Homo sapiens: one gene and its partners. The protein of the gene in region 1 purifies or fractionates together with the protein of each later gene. This does not show direct contact. Each region holds a gene or a part of one and is shown on either strand. Other genes may lie near its edges. The genes, in order: FAM98A, PPP1R10, SUMO3, NSRP1, GTPBP4, SPATS2 and SULF2.

Region 1 (3,500 bases):
GTTGAAGGTATAAATATTCAATCTCATTCCTTTAACATTCCCAAGGACATTTCAATTTTTATAAAAGATGATTAAGAATCATTTGAATCTTAGGATTTCTGGTTATGTGACAAAGTGAGATTCTTCTGACAATATAACAAAACCAGTTTTGGGAAAAGATATTTTCAAGGCCCTCAGGTCCTATTAGAAGTAGAAAAAAGTCAACTTGTGTATCAAATTTCCTATACCCAAAATGTAATGCTAGAAGGACAGAGGCCATAATTTTGGCAAATCATTTCTGAAAGGCTGCCAACTCCTGTTCTAAAACAATAAATACAGCTAAGTTTCTGGAAAGGTCATTCTAAATGGATTTGACACTGTAAAATCTTAACATGTTCCATACAGCAAACTGTATTTATGAGTTAAAACGTCAAAACAGTAAAACCCCACTGTTAAGACAACAACCACTGTTTTTGTACATAAGGTTTCATTAGGACACTGCCACACTCACTCATTTATATATTGTCTATGGCTGCTTTCATGCTGTAACAGCAAAGGTATGTAGTTGTGACAGAGAACTTAGGGCCACAAAGCCAAAAATATTTACTATCTGGCCCTTTTAGAAAAAGTTTGCCAACTCTTGTTCTAGAAAATCATATACTATATGATTTAATATATTGGTTCTGTAAATTTGGGATAACATAGTTCAGGTATTCACAAAATTAGGTTACCAATATAATTATCATGAAAAAACTTTAATCGTAATCAGTATGTTCAAAGCACTGGGAAAGGCACTGAAGATAACATTTTTTAAAACATCAAAAAGATGACCTCTTCCGATAATCTAGTTAGGAATAAAGAGTATATGCAAAAATAAAAGATGAATAGTTCTTCATCTATTAGGAACTCAGACATCTTACTTAATTTACGTAAGGGCAACACTCTGAGAACCATAAAAGGCCAATGAAGAGCCAAACAGAGTCCTTAATCTGATACATGAGAGCTTTTCAGCCTCTCACTCAAAGGCTATTCTATTTTTCCAACAATTCTAATGAGGCTGGTTTGTTTTCCCCCCTAAAATACAATGTGATAAAAGATTCAAGTTAGTGAGGTAAGGGTGCTGGAAAAGTAAAATTATAGCATCCAGATGTGACAACTGATACTTCAAAAGATGAGAAATATTTACATAGACCAAGTCAAAAATGAGTACATGTAGGTAAATGCTAGAATGAAAGAGAGGTTACAAACTGGGGAGAATATTTTAGAAAGGGAGAATCGGCAGAAGCAAAGATAAAGAGGGAAACAGTGTGTATATATGTATGTATGAAGAATATAAAAAGTGAGTGACCTCTAGATGATTTAGTCATTTAATTGAAGAGCAAATAGTGGTATATTCTTGAAAAGCATTTGAGGTGATGATAGCAGATTAAAATAAAGTCTAGAATTATGACCCTGAGTCCAAAATAATGTTCACTGAAGTCTGCTTAAGAAACAGAAAAGTGTGAAAGGCATTTTATACTTACATTCAAGTGGTTTGTATAAGTATCAGTGCTAAAAAGGCCAAACTCTGAGCTCTTTGGAAGAATTAGCTATTCAGGGTCATTAGTAAGCATTCCACACAGCTATTATCTTCCTATGTAGATAACATATTCTAAGTGCCAAATATTGGTAAAGGATAAGCAATGCTATAAAGGAAGAATCAGCTGAGTATACTGCTATTGAATCAGTTACAGAAATTGTACAATATGAAGAATATTAAATGAATATGTAAGAACTACCAGCAGCAATATCAGTATCTAAAGCAACACCTAACCTTACGTGCACATTCCCACAATAACAATCATTTGACAGACAAAGGGGAAGTTACAAAAGTGATTCTGGAATAACTTAGTGCCTAAGTATAATGGCTATGAACACTTTTTTTTTTTTTAACAGAACCTTAAAAACTGAAGTTGTATAATTTTTTCAGAAACCATAATAGAGTTGTAAAAACAAAGATTTTAAAAATCCTCTGAATTGTCTGTCATAATGAGAACTATAATAGCCAGTTAACCAAAGCTTAATGTAAATGTGCTTCAGAATGCTACATAAATTCTGAGTTAAGACTATAGGTTGTATTTATTGGAAAGTTTATAGAAGGCAATAAAATTTTTGAATCTACTTACTGTTTTTCAGTGTGAAGAGACAAAACAGTAGTAAGTATGTAAAAAACATGGAAGGAAAGAACTTTTCATAAAAACTCATTTCTCAGAATAAGTACCAGAACAATGCAAGTATTATTCCAGAATATTTACAAACAAAACCAAAATCCCCAATTACCCAACCACAAAGAAATAGCAACAAGACAAAATACTTTAAATTACATTAACCATTAACTGTATCTACTATTATAAATGCTTACTCTCCTCAAAGAAATGAATTTCTAAACAAAATCTCCATTATTTCCATACTATCTTCCTAATATACTTAAAAATGTGCTTCTAGTCTAAAATGTAAGTTTAATGATCACACACTTGAGCAACACTCCAAAACTACCAGTGATCACATTAGGAGAAGCACAACGGCCTGAGTACCACTGAGGCTGAAATATTGAAAGAGTATCAGTTACAAAAACAATAATGCTACCAGTGCACACGTCTACCCTCAGCTCCTAAATTGGAAATTTAAGAAAGTTTTATTTTAAAATGAATTTTGAATTACATTCATAATGAAATAAACAAACAAAAAACCATGGTCAGTTTATTAGTCATGGAAAACATAAACAGAAAGTAATAGCTATATTCTAGTAGCCATGAACTTACTGAGCAAGAGGAGGCAGTTCTTCTGAATGAGAAGGCGCTTGGTCACATCCCCAGATGTCAGTGAAAGATACGGGCAGTTCATCTCCCCTAGTAGCCCACTCACCTCAAGCTGGAATTCTTCAGCTTCACTCGGACCTTTTAAGAATTAAAATAATCTTATTTAATGATAGTGATTATTTTTCCATTAGCATAACAATTATTATATATAATTGAAATTGTTAATAGGATTTTCATAACTTGAGTTTTTTCCCCTTCTAATTTATCCTTTCTTACACCACTGCAAAGTTTCTTCTTTTTTTTTCTTTTTTGAGATAAGGTCTCTGAGGCCTAGGCTGGAGTGCAGTGGTGTGATCAGGGCTTACTGTAACCTCAAACCCCTGGGCTTGAAGGATCCTCCTGTTTAAGTCTCCGGAATAGCTGGGCCTACAGGTGTATGCTACCATGCCTGGCTAATATTTAGAAAATTCTTTTGTAGAGACTAGGTCTCAGTATGTTGTCTAGGTTAGTGTCAAACTCCTGGCCTCAAGTTATCTTCCCACCTTGGCGTCTTCAAGTGCTGGGATTACTACAGGCATGAGCCACTGCTCCCAATCTAAAATTTTCTTTCTCAGTGTTCATTAGGTCATTCTCTTATTTGGGAGTCTTTAATGGTTCCCTAATTTCTCCCTCATCCAATCTGATTTTTTTCTGTCTGCTTTTAAAGATTCTTCATAGCTGCTT
Region 2 (3,500 bases), on another chromosome or scaffold:
TGGATTTTGGTTACATGTATAAGTTCTTTAATGGTGATTTCTGAGATTTTGGTACACTCATCACCCAAGCAGTGTACACTGCACCCAACGTGTAGTCTTTTACTAATGTAGATTTTAACCACATATTCTGAAATATTAGGTCTTTTTACTCCAGAGTGGTGTGATGACATCAGAGTTGAAAGTTATCCAAGTAGAACACAACTCTAATTCATTGTTCCATTTTTTAAGGGTTTGGTTTTTAAGCATATCTCATGTTCTTCTTAAAACTTTGGGTTACTTTCTCCGTTACATAAATTTTCACAATATTTTCTCAAACCTCCCATTTTCTGTTCCTGGAAGAATGTTACTTTACATTATTTAGGCATTTCCCCTTTCTGTCACCTGCAGAGCTCCGGAAATTGGCCTCAGTCCTTGTCAGCGACTGGATGGCTGTCATCCGCTCTCAGAGCAGTACCCAGCCTGCTGGTAAGCTCCTTAGTCCTTTATCCTTTGTATTTATTTCTTTCCTATTGGGATGTGGCCTTTAGGTGCTCCCAGTCTGCTTCACCTCTGACAGTGTTCATCTAAATAAAATCCTTTTCTGCTTTGTTTTTTCACAACAGAGAAAGATAAGAAGAAACGTAAAGATGAAGGAAAAAGTCGAACTACCCTTCCTGAGCGACCTTTGACAGAGGTGAAGGCTGAGACCCGGGCTGAGGAGGCCCCAGAGAAGAAGAGGGAGAAGCCCAAGTCTCTTCGCACCACAGCACCCAGTCATGCCAAGTTCCGTTCCACTGGTAAGACTGGCGGCTGGCCTCTGGAGGGTTCATGGGCATGTGCACACCCAGAGCCTTATGGGGGAATCATTTGATGTGTGGTATGTTAATCGTAAGGAAGAGGGAAGACTAGCAGAGGAAGCTTTGGTTACAAGGCTAGAAGAACATTTGCGGGTGAGAACGGGAGGAAAATTCGGGGGTCTGGGGTTTGAGTTCAGCTGCCCACACCGTGCTTCTTTCCCCAGGACTAGAGCTGGAGACACCATCCTTGGTGCCTGTGAAGAAGAATGCCAGCACAGTGGTGGTTTCTGACAAGTACAACCTTAAACCCATCCCCCTCAAACGTCAGAGGTATGGACCATATTCTCAGGCTCTGAATGGGGTGGATCTGTGGACACAAGGGAGCAGGAGGGGGTGAGTCGGAGATGTTGATGACAGTTCCTCTTCTGACAGCAACGTAGCTGCTCCAGGAGATGCCACTCCCCCTGCAGAGAAGAAATACAAGCCACTCAACACAACACCTAATGCCACCAAAGAGATCAAAGTGAAGATCATCCCGCCACAGCGTGAGTCTAAAGTGGGGAAGATGTACTTTGAATTAGGAGCAAACTTTTTTTTTTTTTTTTTTGGAGACAGAGTCTCACTCTGTCACCCAGGCTGGAGTGCAGTGGCACGGTCTTGGCTCACTGCAAGCTCCGCCTCCCGGGTTCACGCCATTCTCCTGCCTCAGCCTCCCGAGTAGCTGGGACTACTGGTGCCCGCCACCACGCCCGGCTAATTTTTTGTATTTTTAGTAGAGATGGGGTTTCACCATGTTAGCCAGGATGGTCTTGATTTCCTGACCTCGTGATCCACCCACCTCAGCTTCCCAAAGTGCTGGGATTACAGGCATGAGCCACCGCACCTGGCCAGGAGCAAACTCTTATGGGAATGAATGTCCCTGGGAACGAGAAGTTTTTTCCCTTCTCTTTTATTATTTCCCTCCATTTTCCTTTGATTTCTTGGTATCCCTTACTTTTTGTACCTCTGGAACTCCCGTTTCAGGGGTCACTTAGGAGTAATTTTAGAGATAAGATAGGGACGTGTGCCATTCTGTGACTGGTCAGGGGCACCTGGTAAGGTGATCTGTCATGTTCACAAGGGCTCACTTCGTCAGCTACCTGAGCTATAATTCACATCCAAAGCTATGGCTTGCCTGCCATGAGAAACCTAGAATAACAACAAGAATATCCTGTGTGAATCCTCCTGCATGTGCTTCCTGGTCCTCTTGAGCTTATCGTGTCCTAAGTTGAGGCAGGGTCTTCACTGGCTCATTTTATGCCTGGACTGTGTTTGCAGGTGTAGGATTATGAAGGAGGTCTGATGATGCCATTTGGTGCTCTTTCTTTTTGTAGCTATGGAGGGCCTGGGCTTTCTGGATGCTCTTAATTCAGCCCCTGTTCCAGGCATCAAAATTAAGAAGAAAAAAAAAGTACTGTCACCTACGGCTGCCAAGGTATGGGCTCCCAGAAGTAGGTTTCAGTGACAGAGTATAAAAGGTAAAGTAGAAGAAAGGGCACAGCAGCTAGGAGTTGTCGGGGAGGACAACAAGAGGCGTTTTGCCTTGGATATAGACTGGTGCAGGTGAGACATTGTGGAGACAGAGTCTTCCTTTATATAGGAACTGTTGGGGGACTGTGCCTGGGACCCTGGACTAATTGCCTTGCCCTTGGCTTTCCAGTCAGTTCATTAACTTCCTTTTCTTTCACAATAGCCAAGCCCCTTTGAAGGGAAAACGAGCACAGAACCAAGCACAGCCAAACCTTCTTCCCCAGAACCAGCACCACCTTCTGAGGCAATGGACGCAGACCGTCCAGGCACCCCGGTTCCCCCTGTTGAAGTCCCGGAGCTCATGGATACAGGTAATCTAGAAACTGGTTCAGTTTGGGGGGTTTTCTGAAAGGAGGGATCTGGGTCTGAAACCTCTTCTGCTTCCAGCCTCTTTGGAGCCAGGAGCTCTGGATGCCAAGCCAGTGGAGAGTCCTGGAGATCCTAACCAACTGACCCGGAAAGGCAGGAAGAGGAAAAGTGTGACATGGCCTGAGGAAGGCAAACTGAGAGAATATTTCTATTTTGAATTGGATGAAACTGAACGAGGTAAGAGGTCATTTCCTACGTAATAGGTGTGTTTAAGGGATTTTGAAAGGACTTGGTTGTGCTTACTTTCCCTCTTGCTTTTCTTCCCCTGCCGACAGTAAATGTGAATAAGATCAAGGACTTTGGTGAGGCGGCTAAGCGAGAGATACTGTCAGACCGACATGCATTTGAGACAGCGCGGCGTCTGAGCCATGATAACATGGAGGAGAAGGTGCCCTGGGTGTGCCCCCGGCCCCTGGTTCTGCCCTCACCTCTTGTCACCCCTGGAAGCAATAGTCAGGAGCGATATATCCAGGCTGAGCGGGAGAAGGGAATCCTTCAGGAGCTCTTCCTGAACAAGGAGAGGTGAGCAGAGTGGGGTTCGTGCCCTGGGATGTTGAGTGCTTGGACACTCCTGAGGGAACATGAGCTGGGGTAATTACGGGGTGGAGGTTAGAAATTACTTTCAGGGTCTGAATTAATAACTTGACTATCATTCTTTTTTCTCTCACCTGTGTTGTTCCTGATAGTCCTCATGAGCCTGATCCTGAGCCCTACGAGCCCATACCCCCTAAACTCATCCCCCTAGATGAGGTAAGTCAATGTTCTGTGATGATGGAAGTTGTGATG
Region 3 (3,500 bases), on another chromosome or scaffold:
CCCTGTCTCAAAAAAAATAAGTTGCTACTGAGAAAAAAAGAACACTCAAAGAACAGAAAGAAAAAAGAACTTTTGGAAATTAAAAATCATGACAGAGATGAGAATGTCCACAGGAAGTGGAAAGATAAAGTTGAAATGACCTCCCGGAAAGAAGCCCAAATGCAACAATAAAGCCCAAAGCAAAATGGGAGAAAAATTATCAAATTTAAAATATCTAGGACAATGAGCAGCAGGAGGAACAGGAACTCCAAAAAGAGGGAACAGAGTCTGGAGAAGGATACAAATTATCAGAGAACTAACATAAGGCATATTTCCTGAATAAAAATAAACGTCCAGACCCATAAAGTGCCCAGCAGCATGAGTGAGAAAATCACCCACCTCTGAGGCACATAAGGAAACACTGAATGCCAGAATATGGTCCCAGATACTTCCAGGGAAAAACCAAGTTACAAACAAAGCACAGAGAATCAGAATCCACTGAACTTCTCACCTTTTTTTTTTTTTTTTTTTTTTTGAGACAGGGTCTTGCTCTGTCACCCAGGCTGGAGCAGTGATATGACCTCAGCTCCCTGCAGCCTCCACCTCCTGGGCTCAAACAATCCTCCCACCTCAGCCTCCTGAGTAGCTGGGACTATAGGCTTGCACCACCACACCTGGCTAATTTTTTTAATGTTTCGTAGAGACAGGGTCTCCCTGTGTTGCCCAGGCTTGGCACTGAACTCCTGACCTCAAGTCTTGAATTCCTGACCTCAAGTGATCCTCCCACATCAGCCTCCCAAAGTGCTGGGATTACAGGCATAAGCCACCATGCCTGGTGAACTTTTCACTTTTAACATTGGGAGCTATTCTCATGGCTGACCTCTGAAATAAAAAAGAAAAAAAAGTTTCAACCGAGAATATTACGTGCAGCCACATACTGAAGTGTGAAGGTTTATAAAAGCAAAAGTCACGTTCAGCCATGCAGTGTCTCAAAGACGCTGCCCTTCTGTGCCCGTTCTGACAAGACCCTGGAGGATGTGCTCCACCACAAAACACAAAAGGGAGGAGGACTAATCCAGGAAACACCCAAGAGAGAACCCAAGTTTCTAGAAGGATTTGAACAGGAGGCCCTGGACCACGGCTGAGCAGCCAGCCTCACAAGCAGCAGTGCAGGTGGGGCAGGAGGGGAGCTCCGGGAGAGCAGGGGGAAGGGCAGAGCCCCCCCCACATGTACACGGCCCCACACGCCTGCCATCCCGCAGCGCAGAGGAGAACATGGGCACCCGGGAAGTCACACACACAGTGGCCACGAGCCCAGGCAGTACAAACTCCAGCAAGGGCCAGGGCCCAGCATCAGGCAGAGGCTGGATCACGGGGCCTACACGGCGCCAGGCCACTCACTCTGCTGGGAAGACCGGGACCTGCGTGTCTGGAAGCTCAGTCTCACCTTTCGCAGGTGAAAATAAGATCTGCCCTCAGCAAACACAAAGAAAGGAAGTCAGGGGCTGCTTGCCAATAAAGAATGCAAGGCAGTCGCCAGTGACTGCCCCTATGAGCAGGGTATCCAAAGTGGGAGGGAAAGAGGAGGAAATCTAACTGAAAATCCACAGGCAAAAGAGTAAAATAAAAGGGCAACGAGTTGCTGTATTTTCAAAGCGGCTGAAGAAAAGCAGCCTCTAGGTCCCACTCAGGCAAGCAGGGCTCCCTGGGGAAGGGCGCCTGGCTGCAGGGCCGGGCCCCCAACACACCAGGCAGCAGCTGGTGGGCAAAGCCCATAAAAGTGGCCTAGAGAGGGACCCCCTGGCCCAGGGTGAGTCCGCCACAGCGTTACCAAGAACAACAGACACACACACACCACGTCACAAACAGCAGCCAGAAGGCATCCACCCAGCTGGGCACTGCCAGTGGGGCAGCTCATTATCCTGAAACTGGGGAAGAAGGGGAAAGAATCACGCGCTTTCTTGCCTTTCCTAACAAAATGGAAAACCACACCGCACATGAGGGCAGTGTCTCTCCAGGGTCAGGCCAGCTCATACGCGAGGACAGGGTGACAGCGGCGTGGGGCACACGCCACCTGCAGCCCCAGAATGGCCAGACCTGAGCAGGGCCCCCAAGAGCCTTCAGCATCACAGACTTCACAGATGTTAGTACCCCATGGAGAACACAGCACCCCGGGCAGCCGCCCTGTCAGGAAGAAAAACCCACCACACTTCTCCGAGCCTCTAGGTCCCTCCACCTTATAAAAGGCCATGGGGGACAAGCCCAGCCTGGACTAATTTTACAGCACAAGCCCCCGCCTGCCCATCCACGAAGAGGGCACCTCGGGCAGCTGCATCTGGGTCCAGCCCCGAGACGCTCGTGCTCTGGGGATGCCTGGAACGCACAGGACCAGTGCGCACACGGGGAGGCTCTGCGGGGGAGCAAGGTGCCGCACCTGCCTCTCGCAGTAGGCCTTCATCAGCTTGCTCAGCGGCGTGTGCCTCTTGATCTTGAACTGCACCACGGAGCCGTCCTGCCCGGCCACCTTCAGGTTGATGTGGTCATTCTCTGTCTTCACACCCTCCTGCAGAAGACACCAGAGACTGGCCTCAAAACTGTGTCTCAAAATAACCGCGACTTGAATGGGCAAGTCTTTAGGTAATTGTTGGCTTTTTAAAGTCATCAAAACCAACCTAATTCTTAAAATTCTCCAGCAATTCAGAGTCACTCGTGATGGTTTTATTTTTACACAGAATTTATTTTTAACTTCCACTTGTTAAGCATCCATGTGTAAAACAATGCAAGCCTAGGGTCCTCTGACATTGTTAATTCAAAGAAAAAAACAAAGTCTAGGGAAAAATAAGAGAAAATCCATCTTTATTTTAAAGTTATTCTTGTGGGCTGGGCACAGTGGCTCACACCTGTTATCCCAGTACTTTGGGAGTTGACGTGGGAGGATGGCGTAAGCCCAGGAGTTTGAGACCAGTCTGGGCAACAGAGCAAGACCCCATCTCTTTTTTAAAAAATTCTTATGAAACCAGTAAAAACACATATCCAAAAGTCATGCAGCTATACAGCACTAGTAAAAGAAACCAAAAACAGAAGAAAACATTTGTGACTCAGAGGAACCCTATGGGACATTCAAGTGGTGATTTCGGGAATCCAACTGAGGACGGCCACTCCCCACAGCAGGCGGCCAGGCTCCTTCTCGCTGCCCTGACATCAGCAAATGTGAGGGAAGCCACCTCCGAGTACTTTCTGGTTTCAAACTGTCCTATCTGAGCGGCAGTAGGTGGTACTATTTTATTTTTTAATTCATGCCATACTTGAAGCTACTCAACAATGGCACAATCGGGGTGTCTTGTTGCCTGAAAATGCATTTTGAGTTGAGGCAAAAAGCTGATGTCAAGAGACTGGGAGCCAACTTCGGGGCAGCTCAGTCTGAGCCGAAAAGTGGGGCACCCCTCTGCCGGCCTGCACTGCTGGGATAAAGTCGTTTGTGAGTGAAGCAATGAGGCAGGGCCCTCCGGCTCACTCTGAAA
Region 4 (3,500 bases), on another chromosome or scaffold:
CCCACTCTTTCATTTTACCTTCCAGTGCAGCAGCCCTCTTTTCTCTTTCTTCTTCTTCAGCTCTCTCTTGCAGTTTTTTCTTATATGCAGATGTCACAAATGCTTCTTTATCATCAAACTCCCCCTTTTCCATTTCTCGTTCTCTCTGTATTTTCTTTTCCATTCTTTTTTCCTGTTCCTTTTTTCTGATCTCAACTGCTTTTAGCAAGTTGTGAATATACTTGGGCTAAGGAAATAAAAAAGATTTAGGAAAAGAGTAAAAAAATAGTAATTGTTAATATTATAATTTTTATAATGAATTCATTAAGATAGAAATGATTGGCCCAAATAAGATTGTCTTCCCTACATTCAATATAAACTTACTAGCAAGATTAATATTGAAACTGTTTTCCATAAAAATTTAGGTGTAGCAGAGATAGAAATTGTTTATAATGCGATTTAACTTTAATAAAACATCAAACTAAATATAATTTTTTTCTTTTTTCTGGTATTATCTTAATTAAAAAAAAATCAGAAAAGTTCCTGCTAGTTTTTCACATTTAGTAGAAATATGACTATTTAAAATAGTAGCTTAATATAATTTTATACCATCACTCTACTAGTAGATAACTGTCAGATGCAAATGCCCTTAAAAATCAGCCTGTGCTTGTGAAAGAACAAGAGTTGATAGAAAGAAAATCTGAACTTATTTCAGTTTTTACCCCTCCCAAATTTTTTTCTCACTGAAAATAAAATCATGATAGGTGCAGGCAGATGATTCAGTTACCAGCTAGGAAGAAATGAAAAAATGAGAGGGTAATAAAACACAAATAAACATACACAGGGCAGGAACAGTACAAATTTGGTACATTAGAATTCCAAGGAAAAGTTTTCAAAAAACTATTTGCAAAGGTTTCAAAGCAAAAAGCAAAATTGTTAGATAATTCACCTGGCCTATTAGGATAATATGTAGTGCTGCTTGAGTTCTACAATCAAATTTGTAATATCTGGAATTAGGGACTCTTCACACCTCACATACCTAAAAGCTTTTTCTCAGATCATTCTCATGTTAAAATAAGATTAAGACACAAAATGTAGGTCAAGGTCAAAGAAAGTTTGTTATTTCAGCTTACAAACCTTTCTGTCTTTCCCCAAAAGCAATTTGGGATTATTTTCCTCCTTTTTTTTCTGCATTTCATCATAAATACTGTCATATTCATACACAGTAGCATCTTCTGCAAGGGCCTTCTGGATTTCCAGTTTGGTCTTAAAAAAAAATTAAACATGTTTCAAAAATATGAGCCAGCCAATAGATACAACAAAGTCTATGCTTTTTGAGAATGGTTCATAAATTGAAAATATATCATAAAAATTACAATCACATTTTTAGATAGGAAATACAAATAAACTCTGGAGCCAGGCTGCCTGGGTATGAATGCTGGCTCTACACTTACTAATTACTCCGGGCAAGTTTGTTTGTAATCTTTTGGTACCTTAATTTCCTCATCTAGAAGAGAAAGAATAATGACTATATTTACATTCTAAGCTGTTATAATTAAATGACTAAACTTAAAACAGAGCCTGATAGAGAATAAGTATTCAATAAACATCAACTATTATTATCATTTATTCATTTGTATATAATTATACCCATCAAAAGGTCAAAAGGTACGATGGAAACACCTAACCTTGGTTTTGAGAGGCCTGTATTATATATTAAACTTTCATTATCATTTTTAGAGTTGTTAAACATAAAGTCTCTGCCTTTATCATGTTCCTTCCATCTCAAATGATGTTTTTTTCTCCTCTTTCAAGCGATCAAAATCTTACCCAGTGTTTCAGGGCCAGCCCTACTTCTTCTATGAGCCCATTTCTGAGGCCTCTAACCCCCAATGATCTTTCTTCTAAACTCTGAGGAACATTCTATTCTGCAATATTTACACTAGATTTTTTTTTTTTTTAAAGCGATGGGGTCTCGCTCTGTCGCACTGGCTGGAGTGCCAGTGGTGTGATCTTGGCTCACTGCAACCTCTGCCTCCCAGGCTTCAAGTGATCCTCTCACTTCAGCCACCCAAGTAGCTGGGACTACAGGCGTGTGCCACCATGCCTGGCTAATTTTTATATGTTTTGTAGAGACAGAGTTTCACCATGTTGCTCAGGCTGGTCTTGAACTCCTGGGCTCAAATGATCCACCCACCTCAGCGCCCCCCAAAGTGCTGGAATTACATGCGTGAGCCACCATGCCAGGCATGGGCGTTTTTACTTCCTGTTTTACAAATCTTAGCCTTTTGCCCCCGGTTGTAAATTCCTGAGGTACAGAGTCTACACACTTTGATTTTTTCCTCAATTGCTAGATTGGCTAATGTAGAACCCAAGAGGGATCCTTTTTAAGTGATAGGATGATATAATTATTCAAAAGAATCTATCTGATAGACTAGGGTTTTTACATACCAACATTTAAACTCTGAATAATGCACATGCTAACTGAAAAACTTTTTTTCTAGAATATTGTTTAAAATATTAAGAAATTCATTTTTTTCACTTCTCAACCTTTAGAAAGTGAAAGATTCTCCTGCCTAGATGTTGAATTGGCACTCCTGCTCACTCCCCAAAACCAGCCTGGATAACACAAAGAGGGAAACATGGAATCTAAGAAATAATCACCACTACAATAACAAAAAGCAAGGAAAAAGGGAGACTGAGGGCTGTTTTTTTTTTGGGGGGGGGGGGACGAAGTCTTGCACTGTTGTCCTGGCTGGTGTGCAGTGGTAGGATCTTGGCTCGCTGCAACCTCCGCCTCCTGGGTTCAAGCGATTCCCCTGCCTCAGCCTCCTGAGTAGCTAGGATTACAGGCACCTGCTACCATGCCTGGCTAATTTTTTGTATTTTTAGTAGAGACGGAGTTTCACTATGTTGGTCAAGCTGTTCTCGAACTCCTGACCTCGTGATCTACCCACCTTGGCCTTCCAAAGTACAGGGATTACATGCATGAGCCACTGCACCCGGCCAGGGCTGTTTTAAACTGATGACATGCCTTTGTATATGTTGGGAGGAGAGCTGTAGGGGAGCACTTGAGTAGATATGTTACTATTAACTATGTTGCAACATAAATAAAGCAAAAATTGAACAGATATTCAAGGAAAAATAGACAAATCCATAATCACAGTGGGAGATTTAACATATGCCTCTCAGTAACAGAACAGACAAAACAAAACAAAACAAAACAAAACAACAACAACAACAAAAAAAAACAGTATGAATATATATGGATTAACACAACTGGCCCAATGGACACATAGAGAACATTTTCTTTTTTCTTTTTTTTTGGGGGGGGGGTTCGGAGTCTTGCTCTGTTGCCTAGCCTGGAGTGCAGTGGCACCATCTTGGCTCACTGCAACCTCCACCTCCTGTGTTCAAGTGACTCTCCTGCCTCAGCCTCCTGAGTAGCTGGGACTACAGGTGCACACCACCATGCCCGGCTAATTTTTGTATCAATACAGAACATTTTCAAACACAGAGGA
Region 5 (3,500 bases), on another chromosome or scaffold:
GGTGGCTCATGCCTGTAATCCCAGCCTTTGGGAGGCCGAGGCGGGTGGATCATGAGGTCAGGAGGTCAAGGTCACCCTGGCTAACATGGTGAAACCCTGTCTCTGCTAAAAATATAAAAAATTAGCCAGGCGTGGTGGCGGCCGCCTGTAGTCCCAGCTACTCGGGAGGCTGAGGCAGGAGAATGGTGTGAACCTGGGAGGTGGAGCTTGCATTGAGCAGAGATCACGCCACTGCACTCCAGCCTGGGGGACAGAGCGAGACTCCGTCTTAAAACAAACAAACAAACAAACAAACCAAAAAAAACACACTGGGCCGCCAGCAACCCACCCTACAGCTGGGATGCAACGGGACCCAGGAGGAGGTTCTCCCTACGGTGAGGGGGTAAGCAAGAGGATGGCAGCAGCCCTGCCACCACTCTGGACACCCACAGCCCTCACCACCGGAGCCCCCTGGCATCCTCACAGCTGTGCTCCCACACAGAAGGAGCTGACACTGGGCCCTGTCTGTTGGGCCCATGGGGCGGCTATACTCCATCATCTTGGGACTGGAACTGCGGCTGGAGTATGTCTTGCTCAGGGGAAGTGGCCACAGCTCCCCTTCATCCCTGAGGCTAAACTGCCTCCAAACTACCCAAACCTGGTGGCCCAACATCCCCAAGCCAGCTGTGAGCAGCTGCTACCCCTTCCCAGCAGGGCTTGGTGGAGGTGGAGCCCCTCTACTAGCCCTTGCTCTAGCACCCAACGGTACCCTGCCTCCTGGTAAATAGCACCGTGGCCTCTCAGGGAACGTTGTCTCCCTGCTGCCTGAGCTGAAGCAGTGCCCTGCTTCCTGGGAAATGCCCAGAATGGTCACATATCCCAGCGTCTATGCTGAAGAGGTACCTTGTATCCCAGGGCAACGGTGCCTGGGGCGCCCAGAAGAGTCACAACCCTCAGGCCCAGGCTGACCAGCCACATACCATGGGGAGGAGCTGACATTGTACTCCACACCCCAGGGAAACAGGGCAGGGGCTGAGCCGAGGCACCTGCCCCACCACGCAAACAGCTCCAGCACCTGCTCCCTGGAGCTGGACTAACCCTATATTCTGAGCTGCAGAGTCACCACTCTTTCCAGGAAATGGAGTCACTGCTGTCCTCCTCCCTGTCCTCTAGGGCCCAAATGACAGCTGGACTAGTCCATTCTGGGGTCCTTGCTGCCACCTCACCTAGCATCAGAGAGTCTGGGATACTGCTGGGCCCCACCATCCCAGGGTCCAGAGTTCCCCTTGAGCTGACACTAAGCCCTCCCTACTGGCTCAGGTTTCTGAAGTACAGCTCTACCCTGCTTCCCAGGCTCAAACCTCCAGAGTGCGTCTTCCCTGGAGTCAGGCCAGGACTGTGCCCTGACCCCACGGGTGGAGCCACAGCCACAGCCTTGCCCTGTGGGCTTAAGCTGCTAGGGGTGCTTCAGGATCAGAGATCCACCACAGAGAGTAAACCTGCACCCCAAGGCCAGGCCATGATAGGCACACAAGACCCTAAGGCTAGGACCCCAGTCCCACAGCTACCCTGAGTACCTGTAGCTGAAACCCAGCACTGTGGCAGCTGCTTGCAGACCATGTCAGACCTGACACCAAGAAAGATCCCCTCAGATAAGTCCCCCATTGCGGGAAAAACAAGAATAGCAGGACCCCAAAAGCCCCTGACACCAAGGACCTTAAAAACATACACCACCGCTGGCACAAACTTCCAGAGCTGAGGCCACTGAGCCACCCAGTTATTGCCAACATTTCATGGAGGTGAGGAAGCTGCACAGAAACAATGTCACTGCTCCTATCCAGAAAGTCACGGTTCTCTTCCCAAATGGCACAGTAAAACCCAAGTGAGGTGAAAACCTCTCCATGAAAGCCACTCTAGAAGAAAGTATAAAAGAGGCTCCTGTTCTACCAGATGCAGAGACATCAATGCAGGGACACAAGAAACATGAAAAAGCAAGGAAATAAGAAATCATGAAAGGAATATTAACTCTCTAGGAACAGACTCTAATGAAAAGGAAATCAATGAATTGCCAGAAAGAGAATTCAAAATAATAATTTTTTTGAAGGAAACTCAATGAGAAACAAAATACAGATAGATAATTCAACAAAATCAAGAAAACAATTTCATGATATGAACAAGAACTTAAACTGAGACAGAAATTGTAAAAAAGAGTCAAACAGAAATCCTGTAGCTGAAGAATTCAATGGATGAGATAATACAATAGACAGTTTTAACAGCACACTGGATGAAGCAGAAAAAAAATCTCTGTCATTTGAAACTACCTAGTCAGAGAGAAAAAAAGCAGGAAGAACGAAAAAGAATGAAGGAAGCCTATAAGATTTATGGGACAACATTAAGTGAATACATGCTGGCATTATGGGAGTTCAAGAAGGAGAAGAGAAGGGAAAAGGCTTAGTAACCTATTTAATGAGATAGCTGAAAACTTTCCAAGACTGGGGAGAGGTATAGACATCTAAAACCAGGAAGTTCAAGAATTCCCAAATAGAGTCAGCCCAGAAAGGTCTTCCCCAAGGCACATTATAGTCAAACTGTCAAAAGTCAAATATAAAGGAAATTCTAAAAACAGCTAGAGAAAAGCTTGAAGTCACATATAAGAAAATCCCCATTAGACTAACAGCAGATTTCTTTGCAGAAACCTTGCACGCCAGGAGACAATGGGATGATATATATTCAAAGTGTTGAAGAAAAAAAAGAAGACTGCCAGCCAACTATATTACATCCAGCAAAGCTATCCTTCAGAAATAAGGGAGAAATAAATTCTTTCCGAGAAAAGCAAAAACAGAGAATTCGTCACTACTAGACCAGCCTTACAAGATATACTTAAGAAAGTCCTACATCTGGAAGCGAAGACAATAATCACTATCATGAAAACATGAAAAAGTATCCAAGAAATTCACTTAACCTGTAAAGACATTAAGACACACATAGACTGAAAATGAAGAGATGCAAAAAGATATTCTACGCAGATGGAAACTAAAAGCAAGTAGGAATAGCTATACTTCTATCAGATAAAGCAGATTTTAAGTCAAAAACAATAAAAAGAGACAAGAAGGTCATTATATAATAATAAAAGGGGTCAATAATATTTGGGGACATCAACATCAGACTCGCAACATTAGACAGATCCTAGGCAAAAAAGAATCAACAAATACTGGATTTAAAGTGCACTGTAGGCCAGGCGCAGTGGCTCACGCCTATAATCCCAACACTCTGGGAGGCCAAGGTGGGCGGATCACTTGAGGTCATAAATTCAAGACCAGCCTGGCCGGTATGGTAAAACCCTCTCTACTAAAAATACAAAAAATTAGCTCGGTGTGGTGGCGCACGCCTGTAATCCCAGCTACTCAGGAGGCTGAGGCAGGAGAATCACTTGAACCTCAGAGGTGGAGGCTGCACTGAGCCGAGACCGTGCCACTGCACTCCAGCCTCAGTGACAGAGCGAGACTCCATCTCAAAAAAAA
Region 6 (3,500 bases), on another chromosome or scaffold:
TTTTCTTAACATGGAGGCTTGCAGAAGTTGGTGATACTGACTTTCTTTGATTCCTTGTGCCAGACTTACATAGAAACTACCAAGCTACAAAGAAGCCACAGAGCCACAGGGATTGAGCTCCCTATCTAAAGATGTGTTGCCACAGACTCTTCTCTTCATTCCGGACGCCACTTAAGACTAAGCCCGAAGCTGCCGATAGCCATACCCAGCTGATTCTGATCTTTGTTCTATTGTTTCAGTTGATTTTGTTTACAGTCTTTTAAGAGGCATGGTTTTGCCTCAAACATTTTTACCTGTTTTCTTTGTGTACTTAAGAATGACTGGTTTACTCCTAAATTGTGCTCTAAAGTACAGTCCTCTTTCTTGGACAGGATCCATGCTGCAGAATGGTGTCTCTGATTTTGAGACCAAGTCTTTGACTATGCACTCTATTCACAATTCTCAACAACCCAGGAATGCTGCCAAATCTCTCTCAAGACCTACCACAGAAACTCAGTTTTCAAATATGGGGATGGAAGATGTTCCCCTCGCCACCAGTAAAAAGCTAAGTAAGTCAGAGGCCCACCTGTGAGAGAAAATGAAAAATCTGTGTTTTTGGCTAAAGAGGGCAAATTATCTCTGTTGCCATAAATAAGGTTTCAGAAGGGCATCAGTTAATATTTTTCCATTTTCCAGACAGTGACTGACTACTCAGCCCTTCCCCTAACCTTTGTGTACACAGTTGGAGTCTGAAAGTAGTTTAAATGCTGTACAATCTACTTACGACGGCACGTTTTGTGAATTAAAGTCAAACTCTACTGCCAGAATGATTTACCTGCTAACATTAACCTGTTTCTTTATTTGCTTTATTGCAACGTTTTGGTGCTATTTCTTTCATTTTTATCTTCTGGTTGACCCAACAAGTAAAAGCTCTACCTTCTCTGACATTGACTTTTTTTTTTTTTTTCCCCCGAGACTGAGTCTCACTTTGTCCCCCAGGCTGGAGTGCAGTGGCGCAGTCTTGGCTCACTGCAAGCTCCGCCTCCCGGGTTCATGCCATTCTCCTGCCTCAGCCTACCAAGTAGCTGGGACTACAGGCGAGTGCCACCATGCCCGGCTATTTTTTTGTATTTTTAGTAGAGATGGGGTTTCGCCGTGTTAGCCAGGATGGTCTCGATCTCCTGACCTCGTGATCCGCCTGTCTCGGCCTCCCAAAGTGCTGGAATTACAGGCGTGAGCCACTGCGCCCAGCCAACATTGACATTTTAAAGAAATATTTTCACTCCTCTTCATAACTTCATGCTCTTACTGAGCTAGAGTCCTCTGACAGACTCTAGCTTAGAAAAAGTAAGGTCATTTTCTCTTAAGTATGTGGCGTTGACTGGTGATAGCTCTTTGCTTAAAAAAAAAAGAAAACTACAATAATCATTTAAACAAACAGCCAGTAATTCAGCAGACAGAGATAATACCCTGTGTTTCCTATATCTGAGTTTCATACATCTAAGCATGGTGGTCCACTCCACTAAACAAATGAAACATAGAAATATAAAGGACACTTGTAATCAGTAGCTCTTTATGGAATTATTTATTACACATGAGCCAAATTTTAATTAGGTAAGCTCCCCTTTTTCATTGTTCTGGTAGCCCTCAGCCTGTTGCAGATCAGCAGGTTTGAGACTATCCAATCAAGCCAAAAAAAAAAAAAATATATATATATATATATATATATGCGCACAAGGCTTGAAAGCTTTTAGGTGGATTCTAAAAAATAAAATCAAGTTGAGATGAGGAAGAATTTAAATAAAAAAATTGGAAATGCATATCTTGGCATAGTTACAAACTTTTTAGATCCATGTTTCCAGCAATCAATTATATATGTAATTTGGGGATTGGTGAATATAGAAAGGTAAATAGAACTCTTGGAAATTGGTTAAAATGTGTTGAGTAGGTAAATGCAGTCCATCCTTTTCTACAAAGCTGGCTTCCTCATATATACAGTGCTTTGAAGTGTACTATACAGACAGAACATTTTAATTTTGTAATGTCCACATGGTGAATTATATTCTATTAAATCCTGTAACTTAAGGAATTTTGAAAATTTGGTACCTTTTTTAAAGTCTTTTTTCTCTGTGTGTTTCATTTCATTTTGGATAGTTTGTAAAACTGCTGTCTTCAACTGTATTCATCTTTTGTTAACAGTTTCTATTCTGCTGTTAATTCTATGCAGTATATGTCTCTGGCATTGTTTTATTTGTCTCTAGAAGTTCAACTGGGGTCTTTTAAGATATCTTCCATATCTCTTCTTACCACGCTTATGCTTTCCTCTACCTTCTTGAACATATGGTATCTATTTTTTTTTTTTTTTTTTTTGAGATGGAGTTTCACTCTTGTCACCCAGGCTGGAGTGCAATGGTGTGATTTCAGCTCACTGAAACCTCCGCCTCCCAGTGATTCTCCTGCCTCAGCCTCCCGAGTAGCTGGGATTACAGGTGCGTGCCACCACACCCAGCTAATTTTGTATTTTTAGTAGAGACAGGGTTTCACCATGCTGGCCAGGCTGGTCTTGAACTCCTGGCCTCAGGTGATCCACCCATCTTGGCCTCCCAAAGTGCTGGGATTACAGGCGTGAGCCACCACACCTGGCCCTATAGTATCTAATTATAATAGCTGTTTGATGTCCTTTTCTACTCAATTCTATCATCTGTGTCATTTCCGCATCTGCCTCTGTGATTGATTTTTTCTCTTACTTATAGGTCATATTTTTCTGTTTCTTTTAAGCTTTTTTAGGTGGGACTAGAGCAGCCTTTAGTCTAGAAATAATTTTGCCCTGTTGCTGAGGCAGTATCCTTCCAACTACTCTGCCTGCCATATATTGTGAGGTTTTTCCACTCTGGCTGGTGTGAGCACAAACTGTCCCTGGCCTGGTGAGCTCTGGGGATTGTTCTGCCTGGTTGTTTTGTTTTGTTTTGTTTTGTTTTGTTTTGTTTTGTTTTGTTTTGTTTTTTGGTGGTTCTTTGGTTTTGTTTTGTTTTTTTTTTGCCTGTTGTCTTTCCAGTCTTGGGTAGTTTCTTTATACTCATGCACTGGTCCACACTCAGAATCCTCTGTGGATCTCCGTGCAGCTCTCTCATGTGTGTAGCTCTTTCCTCACCAATACTCTGCCCCAGAATTTCAGCCATCTTGGCCTTTCCAAATTCCCAACTTTGTCCCTTCAATTCAGGGGGTCCACCAGGCTGTTGAGGATTTCTCCTCCCTGCATTGTAGCCTAGAAACTATTGAGGCAGCAAGTTGGGGCAATCATAGGCCTCACTTCATTTGTTTCTGTTGTCTCGGGAAAAGTACTACCTGTTACACATTGTCTGAAAACCATTGTTTCATATATTTTGTCTTTGTATGTTTTTAGTTGTTTAAGATAGAAGAATAAATCCAATTATTATTATTCCATCTTGACCAGGATCCTTTTTTTTCCAAAAATCTATAAAAACATGTTTTTCTCATTGGGGAAGGTGGTTATTTAGGAA
Region 7 (3,500 bases), on another chromosome or scaffold:
GTGCCCGATCAGGAAGGAGATTCCAACACAGGCTACCATGTGGATGAACCCGGAGAACATTATGCGAAGAGAAATAAGCCAGCCACAGAAGGACAAATACTGTACAATTCCACTTACATGAGGCCCCTAAAGCAGTCAAGCTCATAGAGAAGAAGAGTGGTTGCTGAGAACGGGTGGGAGAATGGGGTGACAGCAGGGTGGGAGAGCGGGGTGGGAGAACGGGGTGGGGGTGGGAGCGGGGTGGGAGAATGGGGAGATAACGTTGAATGGGGACAGTTGTAGTTTTGCAAGATGAAGAGTTCATTTAGCAGATAGGTTGCGTACTAGTGGGAATATAGTTGACACTACTGGATACTTAAAAATGGTTAAGATGATAAATTTTATGGGAATTTCACCATAATTTTTTTTAAAAACAACACCTAAAATCTCTCATTAGGCTTTGGCTGTCCTTAGGCCAGAGAAATGGGCTACGTGGGAAGCTGCCCAGCCTTGGAGGGCACACTTCTAGCCGGCGGACCCCGACGCCTCCACACATTTTCAGGGCACAGGCTCATTCTTGTTTTAAAGTCATGCAGGGACCATTCTTCCTGTTTGATGGTGGGAGCTGAGCCTCAGAATGGTGAAGCGATGGCCCAGGGTGGCGGCTGAGCCTTCTGGCTGGGTCTAGAAGAGTCCCTCTCTCCACTTCGCCTGCTCCCTGGCTTCTGTCTGACTGTCCTCTCCTCGGCCCTTGCCGAGAATGAGGTGTGAAGGTGTAGACACTTCTTCAGCTGAGTGAGGCTTTTCCCCACTCAACTATAGTCTATTTTTGTTCTTCAGGGTAGTTTATTTTTTATTTTTTTTGAGACCGAGTCTCACTCTGTCGCCCAGGCTGGAGCACAATGGCGTGATCTCAGCTATCTGCAACCTCTGCTCCCGGGTTCAAGCGACTCTGCTGCCACACCACACGCCCAACTAATTTTTTGTATTTTTAGTAGAGATGGGGTTTCACCATGTTGGCCAGGCTGGTCTTGAACTCCTGACCTCAAGTGATCTGTCCACCTCGGCCTCTCAAAGTGCTGGGATTACAGGTGTGAGCCACCGCGCCCAGCCCAGGGTAGTTCTATAAACTCACCACAAACACTGACTAATTGAACGCTGAAACATGGCTCCTAGGGGAAGCACAGAGCTGGGTTCCTGTGAACCTCTGGTCCTAGCATTTTCACCAGCCAATCAATACAGAACCTTGTATGTGTGTTTCTTCCTTTTTTTTGAGATGGATCTCGCTCTGTTGCCCAGGCTGGAGTGCAGTGGCACAATCTCGGGTCACTGCAGCCTCTGCCTCCTGGGTTCAAGCGATTCTCATGCCTCAGCCTCCCAAGTAGCTGGGATTACAAGCGTGAGCCACCACATCTGGCTAATTGTTGTATTTTTAGACGGGGTTTTACCATGTTGGCCAGGCTGGTCTGGAGCTCCTGACCTCAGGTGATCTGCCTGCCTCGGACTCCCAAAGTACTGGGATTACAGGCGTGAGCCATTGCGCCTGGCCTTATCTGTTTATTACTACTGCTCCCCACTAGAATGGGTGGCTCGTGAGGAGATGTGGCTGTGTCCCCAGCCCCTAGATCACCACCTGGCAAAGTGACAGTCTCTGTGGAACTGTCGGAGTGAATGAATGGGGCCCCCCAGGCATGGTCTCTCTCCTCCTGTCCCACTCAGCCAGGTTGTGACACTTACTCTTCTTGAAGAGTTTTTTCCGGCGTCCGGCCAGGCTGAGCTTGTAGTCCCCGCTGTCACAGGTGCAGGCCTCGCTGCCCTGCCCGTAGTACTTGGGCACGAGGTTGGAGAGGGCTCTGCTGCCGCCCAGCCGCATGGGGCCCTTGCACTTATGCAGCTTCAGCTTCCCCGTGGCGTCCTCCACACACTGCCACTTCTGAAAGACATGCCAGGGCCTCGGCCAGCTGCTCATCTGCTCCCCTAAACCCGCCTCTCCCCTGCCACCCCCATCCACCCTGGAGACATCCCTCTCCCTGCTTGCATCCAGCTGTTACCGAGCCCCACCTCTGCTATCTCCAATGCCGCTTCTCTCCACTGCCACTGCTTGAACCTTGGGCAGAGCTACCATCATCCCCCAGCGAGATGCCTCCGACAGCCACCACTCTCACGGTTACCTGCTTCTGTCTGCTCCTAAAATCCACCCACATGGCAGCTAGAGGAATCTTTTTAAAGGGCAAGTTGGATCATATTACTCTCCTACTTAAAACCCTTCAATGGCTCCCACTGTCTTTAAGACAAGACCCAAGCTCCTGATACTAGTCTTTGAACATCCTCTGCAATCTGGCCCTGGCCTACCCATCGGTCCTCCTCTCCCTCAGCCCTCTCTCCAGTATCCCCTGTGGGCTGCTGCCCCAGGGACTTGGCGCTCACTGTTCCTTCTGCCTAGAATGCCTTTTCTCCAGCCCTTCCTGCTGCTGGAGGCTTCTCTTCCTTCCCGTCTGCTCCAGCGCAAGGAGGTCTCCCCTGACCACCTTCCCAGACTCAATCAGTGCAGTGTGTGCAGAGGCTCCACGTGTGCACTCAACTCCAGGCCTGTGGTCAGACGCTGAATGTAGATAGAATCACTGTCCAAATCTCTCGTGTTGATCCTTCTGCTCTTCCCCAGTTCCAGCCTCCTGGATCCCCTCACGGGATTCTGCAACCACCTGTAAACTGGATTCTCTTCCCTTCTGTCCACAGCTGCTCCAGCCCATTGACCCAGTGACTCTTTAGGGCCTATTCTGTGCCAAAGTGACCTTTCCAGGCCATGGGTCAGATCTGTTCCCTGTGTCTCTCCAGCACTTAGCATGTGCCAAGCACTGTGTGTTAATATATTAACTTGCTTACTACACCTCACGCTACCCTACGAGGCAGGTGCTGTCATTACTGTGCCGATTCAAGATGAGGCACACGGAGGTAGAGAGATGTGTCCTGGGTCACACAACTGGGAGGTGCAAGAGCTGTAAGGAAAAGTGTGGAGTCTGGTGCCACCATCCCCCCCAACCCTCTGCTGCACCGTCTGCCCCCGCCCGCTGCCGTTGAAGGCCCTGGTGCCTTTCACCTGCTCATCTTGCCCCTGTCCCGCCCATCTGTTCTCACCTGGAGGCTGAATCTAATTGCATTCACAGCGCCCTGCCACCCTCCCATCCCCTTCAATGCATGCAGGCCCTTCCAGCAACCTGGATTCCTTAGTGCAGAAGTAGACTGATGGGCCAGCAGGCATGGCCCTGAATGAGGCCAGCCCAGAAGCGCCTGGGGGACCTGGGGAGGCTAAAGTGGGCACTGTGACCGGCTATACCCATCTGACTGTCGCCAGAGGGGAGCACAGGCCCAGAAGCCCAGGTCTGATTTTTCAAGAAAAGCCAGGGCTCTGAGTTCTGCGTGAAGCCCTGAGCTGTGTGCGCTGGCGAGCAGCCTCCTGTCCACTTAGCTCTCTCTGCCTGGAATTCTCCTTCCCCACTGCCTGCTCCCCGCTCCAACCCAAC

Evidence for each region.
Region 2: the proteins of FAM98A (region 1) and PPP1R10 purify together in Homo sapiens (affinity purification with mass spectrometry, with the first as the bait; one large-scale study listed by BioGRID). This does not show direct contact.
Region 3: the proteins of FAM98A (region 1) and SUMO3 purify together in Homo sapiens (pull-down; one large-scale study listed by IntAct). This does not show direct contact.
Region 4: the proteins of FAM98A (region 1) and NSRP1 purify together in Homo sapiens (affinity purification with mass spectrometry, with the first as the bait; one large-scale study listed by BioGRID). This does not show direct contact.
Region 5: the proteins of FAM98A (region 1) and GTPBP4 purify together in Homo sapiens (affinity purification with mass spectrometry, with the first as the bait; one large-scale study listed by BioGRID). This does not show direct contact.
Region 6: the proteins of FAM98A (region 1) and SPATS2 purify together in Homo sapiens (co-immunoprecipitation; 2 studies listed by BioGRID and IntAct, with this or other methods). This does not show direct contact.
Region 7: the proteins of FAM98A (region 1) and SULF2 purify together in Homo sapiens (co-immunoprecipitation; one large-scale study listed by IntAct). This does not show direct contact.

What each region holds. Positions count from the first base shown.
Region 1 is NC_000002.12:33,589,300-33,592,799, forward strand, and holds part of FAM98A (protein FAM98A), read right to left. Parts: intron 2,916-3,500; coding exon 2,781-2,915; intron 1-2,780. UniProt on the Homo sapiens protein: Positively stimulates PRMT1-induced protein arginine methylation. Involved in skeletal homeostasis. Positively regulates lysosome peripheral distribution and ruffled border formation in osteoclasts.
Region 2 is NC_000006.12:30,603,744-30,607,243, reverse strand, and holds part of PPP1R10 (serine/threonine-protein phosphatase 1 regulatory subunit 10), read left to right. Parts: intron 1-387; coding exon 388-465; intron 466-602; coding exon 603-776; intron 777-1,000; coding exon 1,001-1,106; intron 1,107-1,208; coding exon 1,209-1,321; intron 1,322-2,149; coding exon 2,150-2,250; intron 2,251-2,508; coding exon 2,509-2,656; intron 2,657-2,732; coding exon 2,733-2,891; intron 2,892-2,989; coding exon 2,990-3,236; intron 3,237-3,400; coding exon 3,401-3,464; intron 3,465-3,500.
Region 3 is NC_000021.9:44,811,563-44,815,062, forward strand, and holds part of SUMO3 (small ubiquitin-related modifier 3 isoform 1 precursor), read right to left. Parts: intron 2,543-3,500; coding exon 2,414-2,542; coding exon of another isoform or gene 2,300-2,413; intron 1-2,299. UniProt on the Homo sapiens protein: Ubiquitin-like protein which can be covalently attached to target lysines either as a monomer or as a lysine-linked polymer. Does not seem to be involved in protein degradation and may function as an antagonist of ubiquitin in the degradation process.
Region 4 is NC_000017.11:30,175,816-30,179,315, reverse strand, and holds part of NSRP1 (nuclear speckle splicing regulatory protein 1), read right to left. Parts: intron 1,246-3,500; coding exon 1,117-1,245; intron 227-1,116; coding exon 19-226; intron 1-18. UniProt on the Homo sapiens protein: RNA-binding protein that mediates pre-mRNA alternative splicing regulation.
Region 5 is NC_000010.11:1,001,934-1,005,433, reverse strand, and holds part of GTPBP4 (GTP-binding protein 4), read right to left. Parts: intron 1-3,500. UniProt on the Homo sapiens protein: Involved in the biogenesis of the 60S ribosomal subunit. Acts as a TP53 repressor, preventing TP53 stabilization and cell cycle arrest.
Region 6 is NC_000012.12:49,496,462-49,499,961, forward strand, and holds part of SPATS2 (spermatogenesis-associated serine-rich protein 2), read left to right. Parts: intron 1-371; coding exon 372-548; intron 549-3,500.
Region 7 is NC_000020.11:47,670,482-47,673,981, forward strand, and holds part of SULF2 (extracellular sulfatase Sulf-2 isoform a precursor), read right to left. Parts: intron 1,913-3,500; coding exon 1,717-1,912; intron 1-1,716. UniProt on the Homo sapiens protein: Exhibits arylsulfatase activity and highly specific endoglucosamine-6-sulfatase activity. It can remove sulfate from the C-6 position of glucosamine within specific subregions of intact heparin.